Linked DNA regions of Homo sapiens: all the other regions are linked to region 3. The links come from fine-mapping of genetic effects on gene expression. A gene starts in region 3. Each other region holds a variant in brackets. All regions are shown on one strand. Distances are between the middles of the regions.

Region 1 (6,578 bases), 46 kb after region 3:
GCTTGCCTGCCCCCACAATTGTGTGAGCCAATTTTTAAAAGAAATCTCACTCTCTCTCTTTTTCTCACTATCCTATTGGTTGCTTCTCTCGAAAACCCTGGTTGAAACACTTACAATCTCATCTGCCAAAGATATGTTCTATTAATATTTTCCCATTCTGCCTTTTTTCTATGTACTTACAGTACATATGTAATTTTATATAGCTACACACATATAATTTTATAATTTATATAAAATATGGCCGGGCGCGGTGGCTCATGCCTGTAATCCCAGCACTTTGGGAGGCTGAGGCGGGTGGATCACGAGGTCAGGAGATCGAGACCATCCTGGCTGACACGGTGAAACCCCGTCTCTACTAAAAATACAAAAAATTAGCCGGGCGAGGTGGTGGGCGCCTGTAGTCCCAGCTACTCGGGAGGCTGAGGCAGGAGAATGGCGTGAACCCCGGGGGGCGGAGCCTGCAGTGAGCCGAGATAGCGCTACTGCACTCCAGCCTGGGCGACAGTGAGACTCCGTCTCAAAAAAAATTAAAAAAAATTTAAAAAATAGAATATATAAATATATAATAATAAAAAATATAAATATATAAAATATTCATATATAATTATACAAAATATTATATAATTATACATATATTAGTTACACATATTAATTATGTATGTTTCCTATACATAATTATCATATATACCATATGTATATATACCATATCTCTCTCTCTTACATACACACACATACAAGATTCTTTTTGACATGAGAAAATAGCCACCATATATATATATATATATTTTTTTGTTGTTGTTGTTGTTGTTGTTGTTGTTGTTTCACAATGTTGCCCAGGCTGATCTCAAACTCCTAGGCTCAAGCAATCCTCCTACCCGGACTATTACCAATTGGCCAATTACCAATTACATACATACCATACATAGGTATATATATACACGCACATACACATGTAATTATACAAACACATACATTTATACATACATACTAGAATGATCAACTCATTTCACTTTGCCTAGGACATTCCCAATTTTAGCACTATAAGTCCCACATCCTGGGAAACCCCTCAGTCCCAGGCAAACTGTTATGGTTGGTTACACACACACATACACACACACTTTTTTTTTTTTTTTTGAGACAAAGTCTCGCTCTTGTCCCCCAGGCTGGAGTGCAGTATTGCAATTTCAGCTCACTGCAACCTCCGCCTCCCAGGTTCAAGCAATTCTCCTGCCTCAGCCTCCCGAGTAGCTGGGATTACAGGTGCCTGCCACCATGCCTGGCTAATTTTTATACTTTCAGTAGAGACAGGGTTTCACCAGGTTGGCCAGGCTGGTCTCAAACTCCCCTCCTCAGCTGAACCACCCGCCTCGGCCTCCCAAAGTGCTGGGATTACAAGTGTGAGCCACCGTGCCCGGCCACACACACGTCTTAAAAAATAAAATTGTAATCATTTTCTATGTGCTGTTTTAAAACCTAAACTCATTACTTAAAATATATTGTGGCCAGGCAGGCACGCCCCTGTAGTCCCAGCTACTTGTGGGGCTGAGGTAGTAGGAGAACTGCTTGAGTCCAGGAGTTTGAGACCAGACCAGCCTGAGCAACATTGTAAAAAAACAGACATATGGTGGCTATTTTCCTATGTCAAAAAGGATCTTGTGTCACATCATATTTAATGACTGCATTTCCTTCCATTTCAAGGATATATCCTTTCATTTAACTAATTCCTTATTACTGGATATCTAGGTTTCCAGTTTTACTATTTTATTTATTTATCATTTTTTGAGATAGGAGACAGGGTCTTACTCTGTTGCCCAGGCTGGAGTACAGTGGCGTGATCTCAGCTCACTGCAGCCTCGATCTCCCATGTAGCTGGGACCACAGGCGCATACCACCACGCCTGGCTAGTTTTTGTATTATTATTATTTTTTTTGGTAGACATGCAGTTTCGCCATGTTGCCCAGGCTGGTCTCAAATTTCCAGGTTCAAGTGACCTGCCTGCCTTGGCCTCTCAAAGTGTTGGGATCACAGGCATGAGGCACTACCCCCAGCCCAGTTCCACTATTTTAAATTGCCTTTGGTTCTAAAACTAACACAGGCCAAAACAGTATGAAAAAAAAATCACAAACACCCAAAGTGCAGACTGCAGCCCTCAAGGAGAGCCAGGCTCTACTTTAATTTACCATTTATTACCAAAGTTATTAAAAGAAAAAAAAAGTCAGGCTGGGCGTGATGGCTTACACCTGTAATTCCAGCACTTTGGGAGGTCAAGGCAGGCAGATCACTTGTGGTCAGGAGTTTGAGACCAGCCTGGTCAACATGGTGAAACCCCGTCTCTACCAAAAATACAAAAATTAGGCAGGTGTGGTGAGCCGCCCCTGTAATCCCAGATACTCAGGAGGCTGAGGCAGGAGAATCACTTGAACCCAGGAGGTGGAGGTTACAGGTGCCGAGACTGCACCACTGCATTCTAGCCTGCGCAACAGAGTGAGAGTCCGTCCCAAAAAAAAAAAGTCCCAGTCTCACTTTCAGACACCTGTGCCACTATGCTGTGCATGACCATAGGTGAAGAAACCCAGAAAGAACTGAGCAACCTCTCTCCATTCTGCCTATAACCACAGGCAGAGTGACTCATTATACTCAAAAAGTCATTAAATCAGCTGGGCGCAGTGGCTCATGCCTGTAATCCCAAAACTTTGAGAGGCTGGGATGGGCAGATCACTTGAGCCCAGGAGTTTGGGACCAGCCTGAGCAACATAGCAAGACCCTGTCTCGAAAAAAGAAAAAAAAAAAAAAAGAAAAAACATTAAATCCTTACCTTTTTAATTCATTCACAATTGATTTATGAACTTCCACTGCGATTTTGCCATCCGAGTGTGTTTTGAGTTCTTGGCATTTGGCACGTAAAATCTCCAGCTGTTCCCTGTTCTCCGCCAGCTCCTTTTCCTGGCCGTGGGTTTTTGCCTCCAGGAGCATTAGTTGTTTAGTCAGCTTAGAAACTGAAAATCAAAAGAGGAAGATAAAAACTTGGCACAGAAGACCTCACAAAACACAATTATGGGCTATTAGGAAATACTAATGAGAGTCAGCTGATAAAAATGACCTTTTAAAGATCTTTTGAGCCAGACGTGGTGGCTCACACCTGTAATCCCAGCACTTTGGGAGGCTGAGGCGGGTGGATCACGAGGTCAGGAGTTCAAGACCAGCCTGGCCAAGTTGGTGAAACCCTGTCTCTACTAAAAATACAAAAATTAGCCAGGCGTGGTGGCAGGCGCCTGTAATCCCAGCTATTCAGGAGGCTGAGGCAGAGAATCACTTGAACCCAGGAGGCGAGAAGGCTCAGTGAGCTGAGATCACGCCACTGCACTTCAGCCTGGGCAACAGAGTGAGACTCTCTCAGAAAAAAAAAAAAAAAAAAAGATATTTTGGAGTGTTATAAATTAACACCAAAGGCTTTGTCCTTAGAAGTTACTGTCCATACTAGGCACAGTGACTCATACCTGTAACCCCAGCCCTTTGGGAGGCTGAGGGGAGTATTGCTTGGGGTCAGGAGTTTGAGACCAGCCTGGGTAACATAGTGAGACCCCATCTCTACATAAAAATTTAAAAATTAGCAGGGCATGGTGACATGCGTCTGTGGTCCCAGATATCCGGGAGGCTGAGGCAGGAGGACTGCTTGAGCCCAG[A/G]AGTTCAGGACTATAGTGAGCCGTGACTGGGCCACTGCACTCCAGCCTGGATGACACAGCGAGACCTTGTCTCCAAAAACAAAAACCAAAAAAGCCAAAAGAAATTACTATCTCTACATTAAGCACTCACTAAATATATACTTTTTAAAATAAAATCCACTATAATATTTTACCAAACATGATTCCAGTCTTCAAGGAACTGACTTTCCTAAGAGTAAAGCCTTAAATCACACCCAGGTGTGTAAGTATATGTCATAACGTTGTCCCTAAAGCTGCAAAATTTTCAAGATTTTTAAGGACATCAAACATGGCCAAACTAAGAACTGGATTTATTATTCTCCTTCCCTTTCGTCATTAAACTTTTATTTTATGTCTTGTATCTAAAGTAAGTCATAAATATTTTCATCCTGTGTTACATGGTTGCATGTAATAATTCCCAAGCGTCTGCCGACACTAGCACTTAGAGGTATTTATTATAGCATAAAACTGTACATCTCTCTACTCTATGAAAATATCTAATTGGTGGCTGGGCACAGTGGCTCACGCCTGTAATCCTAGCATTTTGGGAGGCCAAGGTGGGTGGATCACTTGAGGTCAGGAGTTCAAGACCAGCCTGGCCAACATGGTGAAACACCCCTACTGAAAATACAAAAATTAGCCGGGAGTGGTGGCGCGTGACTGTAATCCCAGCTACCCGGGAGGTTGAGGCAGGAGAATCGCTGGAACCTGGCAGGCGGAAGTTGCAGTGAGCCTAGATCATGCCACTGCACTCCAGTCTGGGCGACAGAGTGAGACTGTCTCAAAAAAAATAAAAAGAAAATATCTAATTGGTCAAAGTGAATCGCTGTTTCTGGGCAATGGGAAAATAGCACAGGCAACTCACTGAATCATAGAGGTCAAAAGGTTTTCCCTGCCCCATGTGACCAGAAATCCTCTTTCTGTTCAGATCTGGTATATTCAAGAAAATTAAGCTCAGTAAATAGGAAACTAATGTCATCCCTAACCCTGAAAACAAAGATAAGAGGCTCCACAACTCTGTTTCCCCTCTCCTCTTAACAATGCCGGAGTAAAGGCAAATACTCCTGGGCCATGCAGGTCTCAGGAGAAATCACATGGAGGAAACTCCTGTGTGCATCTCTGGGAGATGCTCTCATCTTTAAACACGACCTGGTTCTCAGAAACAGGAAGTGCTAGCCCTGCAACTGCAGCAACAGCAGGGGCTGTTCATGGACCTGCCATGCTGTGGAAGGGGCTGCCATTCCAAAAGCAGCTGGAGAGGGAAAACCTCCATCTGCTTCTCAGGGTGCCACAGCCTCATGCAAGATGGCTTGTGTTTCAGCTTCCCAGCCTATGCCATTCTTCACTAAGAAAGAAAAATCAGTAAAGCAAAGGGAAAAAATGCCACTATCTTTTGTACTCATGAATTACGGTTTTAAAGCAGAAGCGATGACTCTTAACCTGGCCCCCTTACAGTTGTGCACTGTCACAGACTATGAGGCTCCTAGGGGTTGGGGGAATGCATGGGAAGAGATGGGAAGAGGGACACTCTCGGAAGGTGTTTGATGGAAATCTAACCTGCAGTGATGTCGCCTCCCAGGCCCGCAGCTCTGAAGGAAGGAAGGACACAGGGGAACTGTTTAGAAAGTGAATGGTTCTGCTTACGCATCCAACAAACATCTGGGAAGAGACCCTGTGTTATTTCAGATGTTTACCTCACGTGATCATTCCCATTTCTAAGGTACTATTTTACCCCAAAACCAGTTCTGCTGAGTCTAGCACTATTACCTACGAGTGATTTACAAACCCATGGGATGATGAGAGACACTGTGGAGTCTGAAAAAGCAATCTATGCATTGAGGGTAGTGACGTGGAAAGGTTATAAACAGCCACATTCCAGTCAAAAATGCAAAACATGACTTCTCTCATTTTCAACTGGGGCCCCCGGCAGGAGAGAGATAGAAGGGTAAAATGACAATAGTGACATCAATGCATGACCAGTCCTCACTGGAAGGACCTCACCTTCTTGGAGGCGCTCCTGGTGGCTGTCCTTGGCTTTCCTTTGCTGAATCTCCAACTGCTCCAGCAACAACTTGTTTTCCTCTAAAACCAGTTTTGCTTGAGTCTGAAGCTGACGCCTGCAATTGATTTACAAGATGAAATACTGTGATTCAGGTGCTGAATGGTTACAGAAACACTCTGGAATCTAAAAGGAAGCAATGGCTGCATTACAGGTAATGAATATCAAGTCATGTCTTCATGTTAAACATATTAACACAGCAGCAAATCCTGCCATTTGCAGTCAGGCGAGGAAGGACAGCCGTGAAGTCTGAATTACGGACTGCTTCAGAAAACGCTTTCAGATGTAAAATTTCAAACATGTACAGAAGTAAAGAGGATAGAGTAGGAGACTCCTATGTGCACAATACCCAGCTTGAACAGTCACTAAATGGCTGATGAGGTTTCATCTGTATAAACCTCTAGTCCTGCTGCCCACTATATTATTCTGAAGCCCATATGGAACATGTTTAAAGAATTTAGAAAGTTCCCATTTCAATTTTAAAATACTCCTTTGTAATCAGTAGCATATTTGCAAAACAAAACAAAACAAAAAAACAAAAAAAACTGACTCTGTTAGCAGGCTTTGAAATGGTTTCTTTTTTCTTTTTTCTTTTTCTTTTTCTTTTTTTTTTTTTTTTTTGAGACAGAGACTTGCTCTGTTGCCCAGGCTGGAGTGCAGTGGCGCAATCTCGGCTCACTGCAAGCTCTGCCTCCCGGGTTCACATCATTCTCCTGCCTCAGCCTCCCAAGTAGCTGGGACTACAGATGCCCACCACGCCGCCTGGCTAATTTTTTTGTATTTTTAGTAGAAACAGGGTTTCACCATGTTAGCCAGGA
Region 2 (6,578 bases), 98 kb after region 3:
ACATTTGTGTATACATTTTTTTTTTTTTGAGATATAAGTCTCGCTTTGTTGCCCAGGCTAGAGTACAGTGGTGCGATCTGGGCTCACTGCAACCTCTGCCTCCAGGTTCAGGCGATTCTCGTGCCTCAGCCTCCCCAGTAGCTGGGACTACAGGAGTGCACCACCACACCCAGCTAATTTTTGTATTTTTAGTGGAGATAGGTTTTCACCGTGTTGACCAGGCTGGTCTCAAACTACTAAGCTCAGGTGATCTGCCTGCCTTAGCCTCCCAAATTGCTGGGATTATAGGCATGAGCCACCACACTCAGCCAGTGTGTAAATGTTTACAGCAGCCTTTTTCTAGTAACCAAAAATTAGAAACAAACTAAATATCCATCAACAGGAGAATGGATAAACAAACTGTGGCATATTCATATAATGAAATACTACTCAGTAAGGAAAAGGATGAATTATTGACTTTCGGAACACGCGTTAATCAGAATAATCATGCTGAGTGAAGGAAGGCAGTGTATTTTATGTAACTCCACTTATATAAAATTCTAGAAAATACAAGCTAATCCATAGTGTGAGAAAGGAGATGAGAGGTTGCCTGGGGATGAACAGGAGCATGAAAGGTGGCAGAGAGGGGCAGGGGGAAGGAATTACAAAGGAGCATGAGGACCCTTGTCAGAATGATAGATATATTTATTATCTTTTTTTCTTTTTCAGGAGCTACCCTATTAATTATCTTTTTAAAATAAACTTTTTTAGAGGCAGGGCCTCACTCACAACAGCCTCACTGTTGCTCAGGCTGCAGTGCAGTGACATGATCATAGCTCACCGCAGCCTTTTCCTCTTGGGCTCAAGTGATCTTCCAGCCTTAGCCTCCCGAGTATCTGGGATTGCAGACATGCACCATCATGCTCAGATAATTTATTTTCTTTTGATTTTTGCTATAGATAAGGATTTGCTATGTTGCCCAGGCTGATCTTAAACTCCTGGGCACAAGCAATTCTCCTGCCTCAGCCTCCCAGGATCAGTTTACCCTAGGAGTTCAAGACCAACTTGGGCAACATAGTGAGACCTCCATCTCTGCAGAAAATTTAAAAAATTAGCCAGGCATGGTGGTGTGTACCTGTAGTCCCAGCTACTCAGGACGCTGAGACAGGAGGATCGCTTGATGCTAGGGGGTTGAGGCTGCAGTGAGTCACGTTCGCACCAATGCACTCCAGCCTGGGCAACAGAATGAGACCATATCTCGAAAAAACTTTTTGTTTTGGCCAGGCACAGTGGCTCACGTCTGTAATCCCAGGCACTTTGGGAGGCAGAGGCAGGTGGATTGCTTGAGCCCAGGATTTCAGCCTGGGAAACATGGCAAAACCCTATCTCTATAAAAAATAGAAAAATTAGTTGGGCATGGTGGTACATGCCTGTAGTCCCAGCTACCCGGCGGGCTGAGATGGGAGAACTGATTGAGCCTGGGAGGTGGAGGCTGCAGTGAGCCATGATTGCACCACTGCACTCCAGCCTGGGCAACAGAGCAAGATCTTGCCTTGAAAAAAAAATTAATAATTAAAAAAAAAAAAGAAAATGGGCTGGGTGCGGAGGTTGATGCCTGTAATCCCAGCACTTTCAGAGGCCAAGGCAGGCGGATTAAGAAAGAGGTCAGGAGTTTGAGACCAGTCTGGCCAACATGGTGAAGCCCCATCTCTACTAAAAATACAAAAATTAGCTAGGCGTGGTGGCATGTGCCTGTAATCCCAGCTACTCCGGAGGCTGAGGCAGGAGAATTGCTTGAACCTGGGAGGTGGAGGCTGCAGTGAGCCAAGATTGCGCCACTGCACTCCAGCCTGGGCAACAGAACAAGACTCCGTTTCGAAGGAAAAAAAAAAGAAAGAAAATTATGTGTATAATTCAAAATTCCCTGTTAACCTGAATACTTGGGCTTTAATGCTTTACATTTTTTTTTAAATACTCATTGCATTCAATCATGAAATGTGAGAAGTTCATGCACCTGAAAAGGAGAGACCTCAAGTCAGTCCATTATCCTCAGAGACACCATATTAATTGCATCATTATGGAATCGTGGTAAACATTTTGAAGGACATGATTCTAACCACCCTACTTATACTTTTCTGGGCAGTTTGAGCAGTTCCAGGATCCAGTACTTGGAGGCTGAGCACAGGGGTGACCTCAGTGCCTGCTCATCTGATACTCACCTTGGTCTCTCTGGAGATGGGTTGGGGCTGCGGGGAGGAGGTGTGCGTGGCACAGCTGCCTTCGGAGCAACGCTGGCTGCAGGTAAAAGGCCATGGATGATGTGTTTCTGCACAAATGAAATCCAACAGAAGTCACTGGGTTGGGTCACTGGATCACCTGAGTCTTGTCACCACTCTCCCTGGGCCTGCAAGGGGACACCTGCACTGGCCACCCATGGATCCAAACCCATCAGAAGCCCACTCCTCCCCTGCCATCCCCAGTCCCCATCAGGCCAGACAAGTGCACACAGCCAAGGAGCATCATGATAGCTGCTCATTGTGTGGCCCTCTTGTCCTTCCCTCCTCAGAGCTTCCCTGGCTGTCCCCAAGAGTCACCCTCTAGCTCTTCCATGTGTCCCACAGCACTCCCCCCAGTGATGTCTCATGTGGCTCCCCCTGCAGAGCAGGGCGACTTCCTGAGAAGCAAGTGATATCCTTATTGTTTTTCGCTTTGTTTTGTTTTTGAGATGGGGTCTTGCTCTGTTGCCCAGAGTGGAGTGCAGTGGTACGATCATAGCTCACCGCAGCCTCAAACTCCCGCTTCAGCCACACGAGTAGACGGGACTACAGATGTTCACCACCATGCCTAGGTAATTTTTGTATTTTTTTGTAGAGACAGGATCTCACTACATTGCCCAGACTGGTCTCGAACTTCTAGCTTCAAGTGATCCTCCCACCTCAGCTTCCCAAAGTGTTGGGATTATAGGTGCGAGTGCTGCACCTGGCCCACTCTCTTATCTTTATCAATCCTGGAACTCTAGCATTGAGCACATTGCCTCACACCTCATAGGGGCTTAATATAAGCTTTTAGGTGGCTTATCTCCAAGACGAGAGTAATGAAAACTAGCTCCTATACACAATGAAAGTCAGAGAGCTCCGCTTTAGGTAACTGTAACTGGGAGTCTCTGAGACGTTTCTGGGTCTAGTCCAAT[C/A]ATTTTCTTGGCACGAGCCATTCATTCACACCTACTAGAGGCAAAACACCATGACAGCAATGAAGAAACCTTGTCTTCATCCCCAAAGTGGTGAGAAGGGAGGAAAAACACCCAAATAATTATTACAGAACATAGAATTATGGAATGAGCCGGGAGAAAGGCTCTCACTAAAAATGAAAAAAAAAAAAAAGAGCATCAATGAGATGTGGGATAAAAACACTATTGTTTTCTATTTGAAGCCAGTAATTAGCACAAAGTGCTGGGGTGGGCAGGGAGGGAAGATTCCTCCAGGTCTGGGGCCAGCCTGGGAATTTCAAATGCTTTCCTTCGAGAAAATCACACAGGCGTTTAGACTGGGCTTTCAGAGATGCCCACTGGTCCCACATTTGGAAATGTGACGGAACAGCATTCTAGGAAGAGGGAACGGCATGAACAAAGGAATGGAGCAAGACATTGGTTGCAGTGCTCGGAAATCATAAGCACGATTCTCCGTTTTGCTAGACTAGAGGCATCTTCGAGGGTGGGGCTTGGGGGCATGGTGGGGACAATTCCCATGGGAAGGGCTTCCAGAGCAGATGGAGGAAATCCCAAGGCCTAGTGAGGAGCACCCACTGACAGTGGCCCCAGGAATGTTAGGTAGTGGTCAGCACGAGACACAAGGCTGGGAAGGGTGGCACAGAGTGGGGGCATCTTTCAGGAGTGAGGGATGGGCACACCTTCCAGTCATCTCCTACAGCCCCCACCACCGACTTGCACAGCCACCCACAGGAGCAGAAGCTCCAAGCAGTCTCTACCCAATACCCCCACTCTGTTTACCTCTGTGTGGCACCTGCCACCCTGTATTTGTCAAGTGATTCCACAGTTTCCATGTTTCCACCCTGCCCCCCTCCACCACCTGCTACACGACAAGAAATGGTTTTTGTTTGTTTGCTTGTTTTGGAGACAGTCTTGTCTGTCACCCAGGCTGGAGTGCGGTGGCACGATCTTGGCTCACTGCAACCTCCACCTCCTGGGTTCAAGCTATTCTCATGCCTCAGCCTCCCAAGTAGCTAGGACCACAGTCATGTGCCAACATGCCTAGCTAATTTTTGTATTTTGGTAGAGATGGGGTTTTACCATGTTGGCCAGGGTGGTCTCAAACTCCTGACCTCAGGCAATCCGCCTGCCTTGGCCTCCCAAAATACTGGGATTACATGTGTGAACCACTGCACCTGGCCAGAAAAGGTTTTCTTAACCTTTGAATCCCAAGGGCTGGCGTCCAGCAGGTCCTCCAAAAAGGCTGCATAAGATTTTTTTTTTTTAAAGAGTGAATCCCCCCTCATACCATCACAATCATTCCTAACTATGGTCCCCTCATCAATCCTGTCTCTACTGGGCATAAAAACCCTCATGGGCAGCACCACTCTCTCAACGGCAGGCAAATGTCCAGCATGGCTTATCAGGCTGATATAGGTTGGTTCCTACCAAGTGTTATGGGATTTTTGGGGTGTCGATTTTTCTGGCCGGAACCTCTGTGGCCACAGTGCCTTTGCCTGAGTTCTTGTCCTGCATCCAGGAAGAATGAGGTACACAGACAAGTGAAGGGTGAAGAGGAGTTTTATTTAGTGTTAGAAGAGCTCAGAGGAGTGGGTAGCTCCTCTCTGGAGACAGATTGTCCCATGAGCTCAACCATTCAGCTCTCAACAGAGAGGAGGCCCTGGAGAGAGTGGCTCCTCTCCGCAGGCAAGTCATTCCAATGTCTCTGCAGGTCTCTGAAGCTCGCAGCAGAGTGTAGCTCCTCTCTGCTGGCAGGTGGTCTCTGTAGCTTTCAGCGGAGAAGGTACTCCTCTCTGTAGCTGGTCACCCCACCGTCTCCAGCTATCAGCAGAGAGGGTACTGCTCTCTGCAGCTGGTCATCCTGTCCCCTCGTCTCTACCATCTTCATCCTCTGGCTATTCTCTGCGCTGCTCTGGCTGAGCCCAGGGTTTTTATGGACCTCAGCGGGGAAGAAGTGTGTGCTGATTGGGCCATTGGCAGGCCCAGAAAAGGCTCCACGAGTTTCCACTCTGGTCAGAGGGACTGGCAGCCCAGCCCCCAGAATTCAGGCCCTCCCTGGCCTGAGGGTGGGGCCTTACTGGGGACCCCACCCCCTTCCTCCTGCTGCCATTCATGGCTGCAGGTCTTGGCTCCGACTCCCCTCCAAGATCAGAGCAGTTGCTGGAGTGGAGAGAGGCCAGGCAGTGGAAGCAGACACCCCTGAGCCTGCAGGGATGGAGGGTGAAGGGGGCTGTCCTTCCTGGGATGGCCGATGGTGCAGGCTACAGAGATGCCCTCGTCCTGTGCCTGGGGGGGCAGCCACAGCTGCACCTGGGAGCTCCCACCCCGCCAACTTGGAAGAGGCAGGGCTCCCACTTGTCCCTGGCTCCTGCCTGCGCGGCTGCAGCTGCATCTGGAAGGGCAAATTCTGCCTGTTCCCGGCTCCCCCAGGAGCAGAGAGGCTCGGATCCACAGCTGCAGTTTGGGTGGCTGTAGCCCTGCCCAAGAGGGTGGGGCTCCTGCCTGCTCCATAGAGCAGAAGGCCTGGGTCTGCAGCAGCGGTTTGCGGCTCCAGTCCCAACTCATGAGGGACGGGGCTTCCACCGGCTCCATGAAGTGTGCAGCCCTAGCCACACAGCGTGATGGCAGCAGCCACTGCCATCACAAGGACCCAAATTCATTTCTTGCTTCCCCTCCTCTTCCTGCGCAGAGTCCCTGTGCTTCAGCACTCAGCGTGGGCTTCCATTTCCCAAACAGCAAATAATTCATTCTTTTTTAGGCCTTGGTATTTGCTGTCTTCTGCACCCAGAATTCTTTCCTTACTCCCTGCCAGGCCCAGGCCAACTCTCCAGGCTGACGTCACTGCCCTTCTGGTACACACATCAACAGCAGTTCTTGTTTTACCATTGTGTACAGAATTATTTATGGGCTTGTCTATCCTACAGACCGTGTGGCCATAAGCTGTCAGTTGTGGGTATCAGCACACAGCAGGGACTCATTAATGTTTGGGGCTTTAAATAAAAACTCAAGCCAGATGCAGTGGCTCACACCTGTAATCCCAACACTCTGGAGGCCAAGGTGAGAGGATTGCTTGAGCCAAGGTTTAAGACCAGCCTGGGCAGCATACCCAGACCCCATCTCTACCAAAAAAAAAAAATTATGTTTTTTTGAGGCAGAGTCTAGCTTTGTCGCCCAGGCTGGAGTGCAGTGGCACAATCTTGGCTCACTGCAACCTCTGCCTCTCGGGTTTAAGCGATTATCCCACCTCAACCTCCCGTGTAGCTGGGATTACAGGTGCCCACCACCACGCCCGCTAATTTTTGTATTTTTAGTAGAGATGGGTTTTCACCATGTTGGCCAGGCTAATCTTGAACTCCTGACCTCAAATGATCCG
Region 3 (6,578 bases):
GCCACCCTGAGGACTCTGCACACACCAGTGGGATCCCTGGGGAGCAGCGTCTGCTTTCAGGGCCAGGGCGCACTTCCAGGACAGGGCGGGGATGGGCTCAGCTCTCCTCCTCATCTCAGCCCTGCCCAGGACTGGCAGTTTGGCTCCAGAATCCTCCCTCCTGCTGAGGGACTGCCTGGGTTCTGATGTGGGTGAGGTCTGCATTCGCCCTGAAGCTGCCTGACTGAGGAGTAGACCCAGCTCAGATTTTTGGTTTTTAGAGTCAGGGTCTCGCTCTGTCACCCAGGCTTGGAGTGCAATGGCGCGATCATGACTCACTGCAGCCTCGATCTCCTGGGCTCAAGGGATCCTCCCACCTCAGCCTCCCAAAGTGCTAAGGTTACAGGCGTGTGCCGCCACACCTGTCCCCAGCTCAGAAGACACATCTTGGGGATTTCTCAGCTGTGCTCTGTGGCCACTGGGGCCCACCAGGGTTCTAAGAGGCCCTTCCTGAGATCAGGCCTGAGACTGGCAGAGAGGGAAAGTGCTGCAGCCCATCGTCTACCTCCTGGGGGTCCCAGGCCAAGCCATTCAGGCCATTGCCAGCCCTCCGGTCAAGCCCTAAAGCCTTGGTGCCGTCCCTCCTCCATCCCCTCTGCTGCCAGGCATGGGAGCTCTCGGAGGCCCTGCCCACACCTCTGCCCTGGAAGCGGAAGCCATCCTGAGCTCACCTGGAGCTGCCTTTCCTCATCCTAGGAGCCTGAAGCCCTCCCTGCGCCTCCATGCTCAGCACCTGCTGCTCCCAACTGCCTGGGACTGGCGCAGTGTGCTGTGTTGAGCTCCTTTCTGCCTTCCCCCCAGCCCCAAGCTCCCTTTCCCTGCAGGCCCAGGGCCAGCCCCAGCTGCTCACTGCAGCCCAACTCAGAGCAGCTGTCCCTGGTAGATGCCTCTAAGACAGAACAGGCTATGCTGGGGGCAGTACTTCCCATCACTACAGCCATTCAGATATAAGGAGGACAGGCATTTAGAGGGGACTCAACCATCAGAACGCCCTCTCTGGCTGGGCACAGCGACTCACGCCTATAATCCCAGCACTTTGGGAGCCTGAGGTGGGAGGATCGCTTGAGCCCGGGAGTTCCAGACCAGCCTGGGCAACACAGCAAGATACTGACTCTACAGAAAGAATTTTTTTGAAAAGTTAAAAATTTGGCAGAGCATGGTGGTGTGCTCCTGTAGTCCCAGCTACTCAGGAGGCTGAGGCAGGAGGATTGCTTGAGTCCAGGAGGTTGACGCTGCAGTGAGCTATGATTGCACCACTGCACTCCAGCCTGGGTGACAGAGTAAGACCCTGACTCTAAAAAAATTTTTTTAAAAATTTTTAAAAAGAACGCCCTTTCTGACCATTCCTGGAAAGGCCATTAGTTTGAACAAAAATACTGGCCCGTCTAGACACTTGCTCAACACACAAAAGCACCTATTTATGAACTTAAAATAATATGCGGGCCGGGCAAGTTGGCTCATGCCTGTAATCCCAACACTTTGGGAGGCCGAGGTGGGCGGATCACTTGAGGCCAGGAATTGGAGACCAGCCTGGCCAATATGGTGAAACCTCGTCTCTACTGAAAATACAAAAATTAGCCAGGCGTAGTGGCACATGCCTGTAGTCCCAGCTACTCAGGAGCTGCTTGAACCCAGGAAGCGGAGGTTGCAGTGAGCTGAGATCATACCACTGCACTCCAGCCTGGGTGACAGAGCAAGACTCTGTCTCAAAAAAAAAAAAAAAAAAAAAAAAGAATATGCAGCCGAGTGCAGTGGCACACGCCTGTAATCCCAGCACTTTGGGAGGATCACCTGAGGCCAAGAGTCTGAGACCAGCCTGGCCAACATGGTGAAACCCTGTCTCTACTAAAAATACAAAAATTAGCCGGGTATGGTGGCGGGTGCTTGTAATCCCAGCTACTCGGGAGGCTGAGTCAGAAGAATCCCTTGAACCGGGGAGGTGAAGGTTGCATTGAGCCGAGATGGCAGCACTGCACTCTAGCCTGGGTGACAGAGCAACACTCCATCTCAAAAAAAAAAAAAAAAAAAAGAAGATGCAGAATTCCCTGGCGAGAGGGAAAGAGAAGTAAGTCCAGAGATTATCCCTTTAAAGATGTACTTCACAAATCAAAGAGTACATCTTCTGCCGTGTCACTAGGGATCGGCCCGGATTTCACTGCCTGCGCCCCTCGTTCAGACGCCCTTGCCTAACCTGCAAAGGGCCTGCCCCACCAGAGACCGCCTTACCTCCTTTTGGAGACTGGTGGTCTTAGGCTCTTGGCTCTGGATCGACTTCTCATCCTCTCTCCGCTTTCTCAGGCCAGTATCCCCCATGTTTCCTCCTGCTGGTTCCAGGAGACTGCAAGGAGGGCGCACAGCTAAATCTTGGTTCAGCAGCAGCAGACAAGACGCAAGTGCAAGCTCGGCCTGGACTAGGGGAGCTGGCTGCAAAAGCACAGTGTTGGTTATTGCTGCAGGTGGGGGCCGCTGCCAGTCCCTCAGGGCTCATGCGCTGGGCCCCAGAGTCAAAGTCAGTCATTAACATTGTCCAGGCAGGGGAACACAGCTCCCCGCTGCTCTCCAAAGCTCAGCTGCTTGCTTAGCTCTCTCCCAGACAGGCCCCGGGAGCCTCCTGGCCCACGTGCCTGTGCCTTGAAAGTCATTCTACCTCTATGGTCAACTTCATTTTTTTTCAAAAGTAAAAAGAAATATTTAACAACATCCCGGGCTGGGCACAGTGGCTCAGGTCTGTAATCCCAGCACTTTCGGAGGCCGAGGTGGGTGGATCACTTGAGCCCAGGAGTTTGAGACCAGCCTGGCTAACATGGCGAACCCCGTCTCTACTAAAAATGCAAAAAAAAAAAAAAAAAAATTAGCTGGGTGTGGTGGTGGGTGCCTGTTAATCCCAGCTACTCGGGAGGCTGAGGCAAGAGAAGCACTTGAACCCTGGAGGCAGAGGCTGCAGTGAGCCAAGATCATGCCACTGCACTCCAGCCTGGGCCACAGAGCGAGATTCTGTTTCAAAAAATATATATATAAAAAATTAAAAAATGAAAATATTGTGGAATGTATTTATCAGAATCAAGTCCAGGTAAGGAGTGTCTGTCTTATAATTCCTTCCCAAGATTAAAGGCACTCCCATACATCACAGATCCACAATACAGGTACTTTTTCTTTGTACTTTTTAAATTTTTACAATATTTTTTATAAAGACGGGAGTGTTGCTATTTGCCCCGGCTGGCCTCAAGCAGTCCTTCCACCTCGGCCTCCCAAAGGGCTGGGATTTCAGGGGTGAGCCACCACGCCTGGCCAGGTACTTTTTCATTGAGTGATGAAAGGAAAGAAAACATTGCCGAGGAAACCCAGTTCCAGACTGAACTAGGAGAAAACCATGCACTCCTGTACCCTCTCTCTAAATAAATTATCTGTCCAGGCCCCGGCCAGGAGAGCCATGAGCCTTTCTATCACCTACTGACCTTACTTACCTTCCTCCGTGACCCTGCAGAGCCGGAGGAGCTGCGGCCCAGCTGACCGCCCGTGCCTGCACGGTCCAACCCTAGAAATGGCCATGTCTTGTGCCCAGGAGCAAAGGAAGTCCAGAAGGTACAGAGGTCAATAAGGGTAATTATTAAACACCTTTTTTTTTTTTTTTGCAATGAAGCTTAGATACGCCACACAAAAAAGGGGAGGGTCAGGAACACCAATTTCTCTCCAAAACCGTTTTTGTTTTGTTCATTTGTGTCTAGGTCAGATTATTTTTTTAAAACCAGATGGTCCCAAATCGTCTACACTTTTTACCTAAAGATAAAATAAATTATGCCTTCTTTTATCTTTGGGAATCAGAGGAGATAAACTTTGGAACCAATTCGCTAATTGCCTTAATAGGCTATATTTAAAACCCAAGTCAGGCAGCTCAAACAGGAACCGCTGTGTGTGCGTAACTCAGCTGTTGGTCAGTTTCCTCCCCGCCCAGGAATTTCCCCCAAGCCAAGGGCCTGCCTCTGGCTGAGCAGGTGAGAGCGGCTGAGCCCGTCCCACTCCTCTTTACCAGTGATGGGGCTTCACCACTTGGAATCACAAGCAGGCCTGAGGCAATGCAGGGCCTCGTGTCCTCCCTGCAGCTGCGGCCAAATGCCCATCAGGTTTGGCTGTGGTGCTGTTCACGTAGCCATGTCCTGGCTCATCACAAGGGACACAAAACCTTCCCCTTCGGGGAAACGGAGGGGGACAGGCAACACAAGGCCAGGAAGCTCCGGTCCGCATCCAGGGCTGCCAGGGTCTGGATCTCTCTGGGAGGGAGCAGAGGTTCTCCCGCACTGCGATTGGACCTAGGCTCAGGCGGCAGCCTCAGGGGTCAGCACGAAGCCCTTTCAGATAGGGAAGGAAGCACCTTATGAGACCTTATGAGACAGCCTGGCACAGCATAAGCACTGCATCTGAAGCATCGTAGCTGTTACCTTCAGCCAAAACTCTGGTAGCTTTGCCTTGGGCCAAACTTAACTGCATCCCAGATATCAGATGGAAGCAAAGGTCAGGGATGGAAGGAGCTGGGCCAGTCTCTGGGGGTCAGTTTGGGAGCAGTTTGGGGCAAGCAGACCTGAGAGAGGCACAGGTTTCTCTGAAAGCCGTCTGCAGAGCACAGGGACCCTTGTTGTCCCAGAGGCACGGTCCTGATTTAGAAGTTCGTCACCTCCCATCTTGGGAGGGCCCACCTGTTTACCTGCCTGCCATGCCCAGAGCCCTGAGCAGAGAGGCTAGTGGCAGGTCCTGCCACCCTAGACAGAACCTGCCCACCGGCTTGCTGGGGTCACTCCTCCTAATGTTGCAGCACTCATCATAGTACCTGGCACATCCATGTTTGCAAAACACCACAGAATACCCCCTGGGTCAAAAGTGCTCCTGGCAGGCTGACAGGAGACCACGTGAGGACATCAGGGTGGGGCAGTGGTCCCCCGCTGGGGCCAGACAGCCCTGCAACCTCACCCACTACCCACATGGGCTCAGGCAGCACTGCCAGGATCAGGGTCTGAACCTGCGACGCAGGGCGAGCAACAGGCGCCTCCTCACGGAACACACTGAACTTGCATGTTCCATGAATGTCCGGGACCAGCCCTCTGGTCTTCCTGGGCCTCTTCCAAGTGCCGAGTCTGGAACATCGGGATGTGAGGGTCCTTTGTTAAGTCAGAAACCTCCACTTCAGTTCATTTTGGGTCCACGGTGAGCATTTCTTAAGCCTGTTTCTTAAAGTTGTGTTTTTCACCGCAGTCCCACCCTCTCCCTCCCTTGAATACACAGAAAGTATTCAAGTAATTCTCATAAGCTCTTCCTCATGGAAAATAATACGGATTTCATTTAAAAAGCAAAATTTTCCTCAGTTCTTGAAGACCATTGGTTCATTGTGTATCCAGTGCTTCTGCCATGTGACTGAAGTTTCACCTCCCTGCTGTCAATTTTTTTTTTTTTAGATGGAGCCTCACTCTGTCGCCCAGGCTGGAGTGCAGTGGCACGATCTCAGCTCACTGCAACCTCTGCCTCCTGGGTTCAAGTGATTCTCCTGTCTCAGCCTCCTGAGTAGCTGGGATTACAGGCATCCACCACCATGCCTGGCTAATTTTTGTATTTTTAGTAGAGATGGGGTTTCACCATGTTGGCCAGGTTGGTCTTGAACTCCTGACCTCAAGTGATCCACCTGCCTCGGCCTCCCAAAGCGCAAATCCTACTGTCATTTTTACCATTTTATTTATTTATTTTTGAGACTTGCTGTGTCACCCAGGCTGGAGTGCAGTGTCATGATCTCAGCTCACTGCAACCTCCGCCTCCCAGGTTCAAGCGATTCTCCTCCCTCAGCCTCCCGAGTAGCTGGTACTACATGTGTGACAATATACCCGGCTAATTTTTGTATTTTTAGTAGAGACAGGGTTTCATCATGTTGGCCAGGCTGATCTTGAACTCCTGACCTCAAGTAATCCACCCGCTTCAGCCTCCCAAAGTGCTGGGATTACAGGTGTGAGCCACCACACCCGCCCAACCACTCTATTTCTTAAGTTTCTGCTAAAGACTCTTGACCTTCATTTTCAACCCGTGCTTTTTCCCTTCCGATTGCAAAAATGCTTGCAGTGTGAAGATCTTCACACCATCTACATTTTATCTTATATTTGGTGCACATTTGATTTCAGTTGGGGAGGGTAAAATGCTTCTCTCCACCCTTTTGGGTTCTTTGGTTGGGCTTCGAATTGAGACTAATGGGAGGAAAACTGTTTTAATTATGTGTATATGCAACTGAGTCCCACAAAACAAGAGACTTGAAGAAGGGCCAGATGACTAAACCCTATATAGCATCCTGAGCTATATAAGGATTAGGGGCTTGGGGCTTCTGGGGCAGGTAGGGACTAGTAATGGGATGGTGAGGGGAGGAAATGCATGGCGAATAAAGGTCGTCTTGTTATGCAGATATAAGTCTCTCAGGTAATAAAAGTTGTCTCTTCCTGGTACAGATACTTGTACTAATGTAGATTTCCTTCATGACATACATTTCTTTTGCAAAGGGCAGCTTTTCAGAG

What was found. PIP is the estimated chance that this variant, and not a neighbour inherited with it, causes the effect.
Region 1: its variant is the best candidate, but not a certain one, in a credible set for the expression of SLC7A9 in breast (GTEx, PIP 0.63).
Region 2: its variant is the best candidate, but not a certain one, in a credible set for the expression of SLC7A9 in substantia nigra (GTEx, PIP 0.82).

The regions. Positions count from the first base shown.
Region 1 is chr19:32,912,522-32,919,099 of GRCh38, forward strand. It overlaps CEP89 (centrosomal protein 89), which reads right to left. Exons shown (of 19, transcript NM_032816.5): 13 at 5,703-5,818; 14 at 2,816-2,996. Among named protein-coding and RNA genes, the nearest start is that of SLC7A9, 46 kb to the left of the region's middle. The variant A/G (reference allele first, on the strand shown) is at 3,684.
Region 2 is chr19:32,964,162-32,970,739 of GRCh38, forward strand. CEP89 (centrosomal protein 89) reads right to left here. Exons shown (of 19, transcript NM_032816.5): 2 at 2,199-2,305. Among named protein-coding and RNA genes, the nearest start is that of CEP89, 4.5 kb to the right of the region's middle. The variant C/A (reference allele first, on the strand shown) is at 3,170.
Region 3 is chr19:32,866,183-32,872,760 of GRCh38, forward strand. SLC7A9 (solute carrier family 7 member 9) reads right to left here and starts at 3,585. Exons shown (of 13, transcript NM_014270.5): 1 at 3,504-3,585; 2 at 2,266-2,463. The coding sequence starts at 2,352. RefSeq lists enhancers at 1,873-2,448, 3,890-4,412, 4,413-4,935.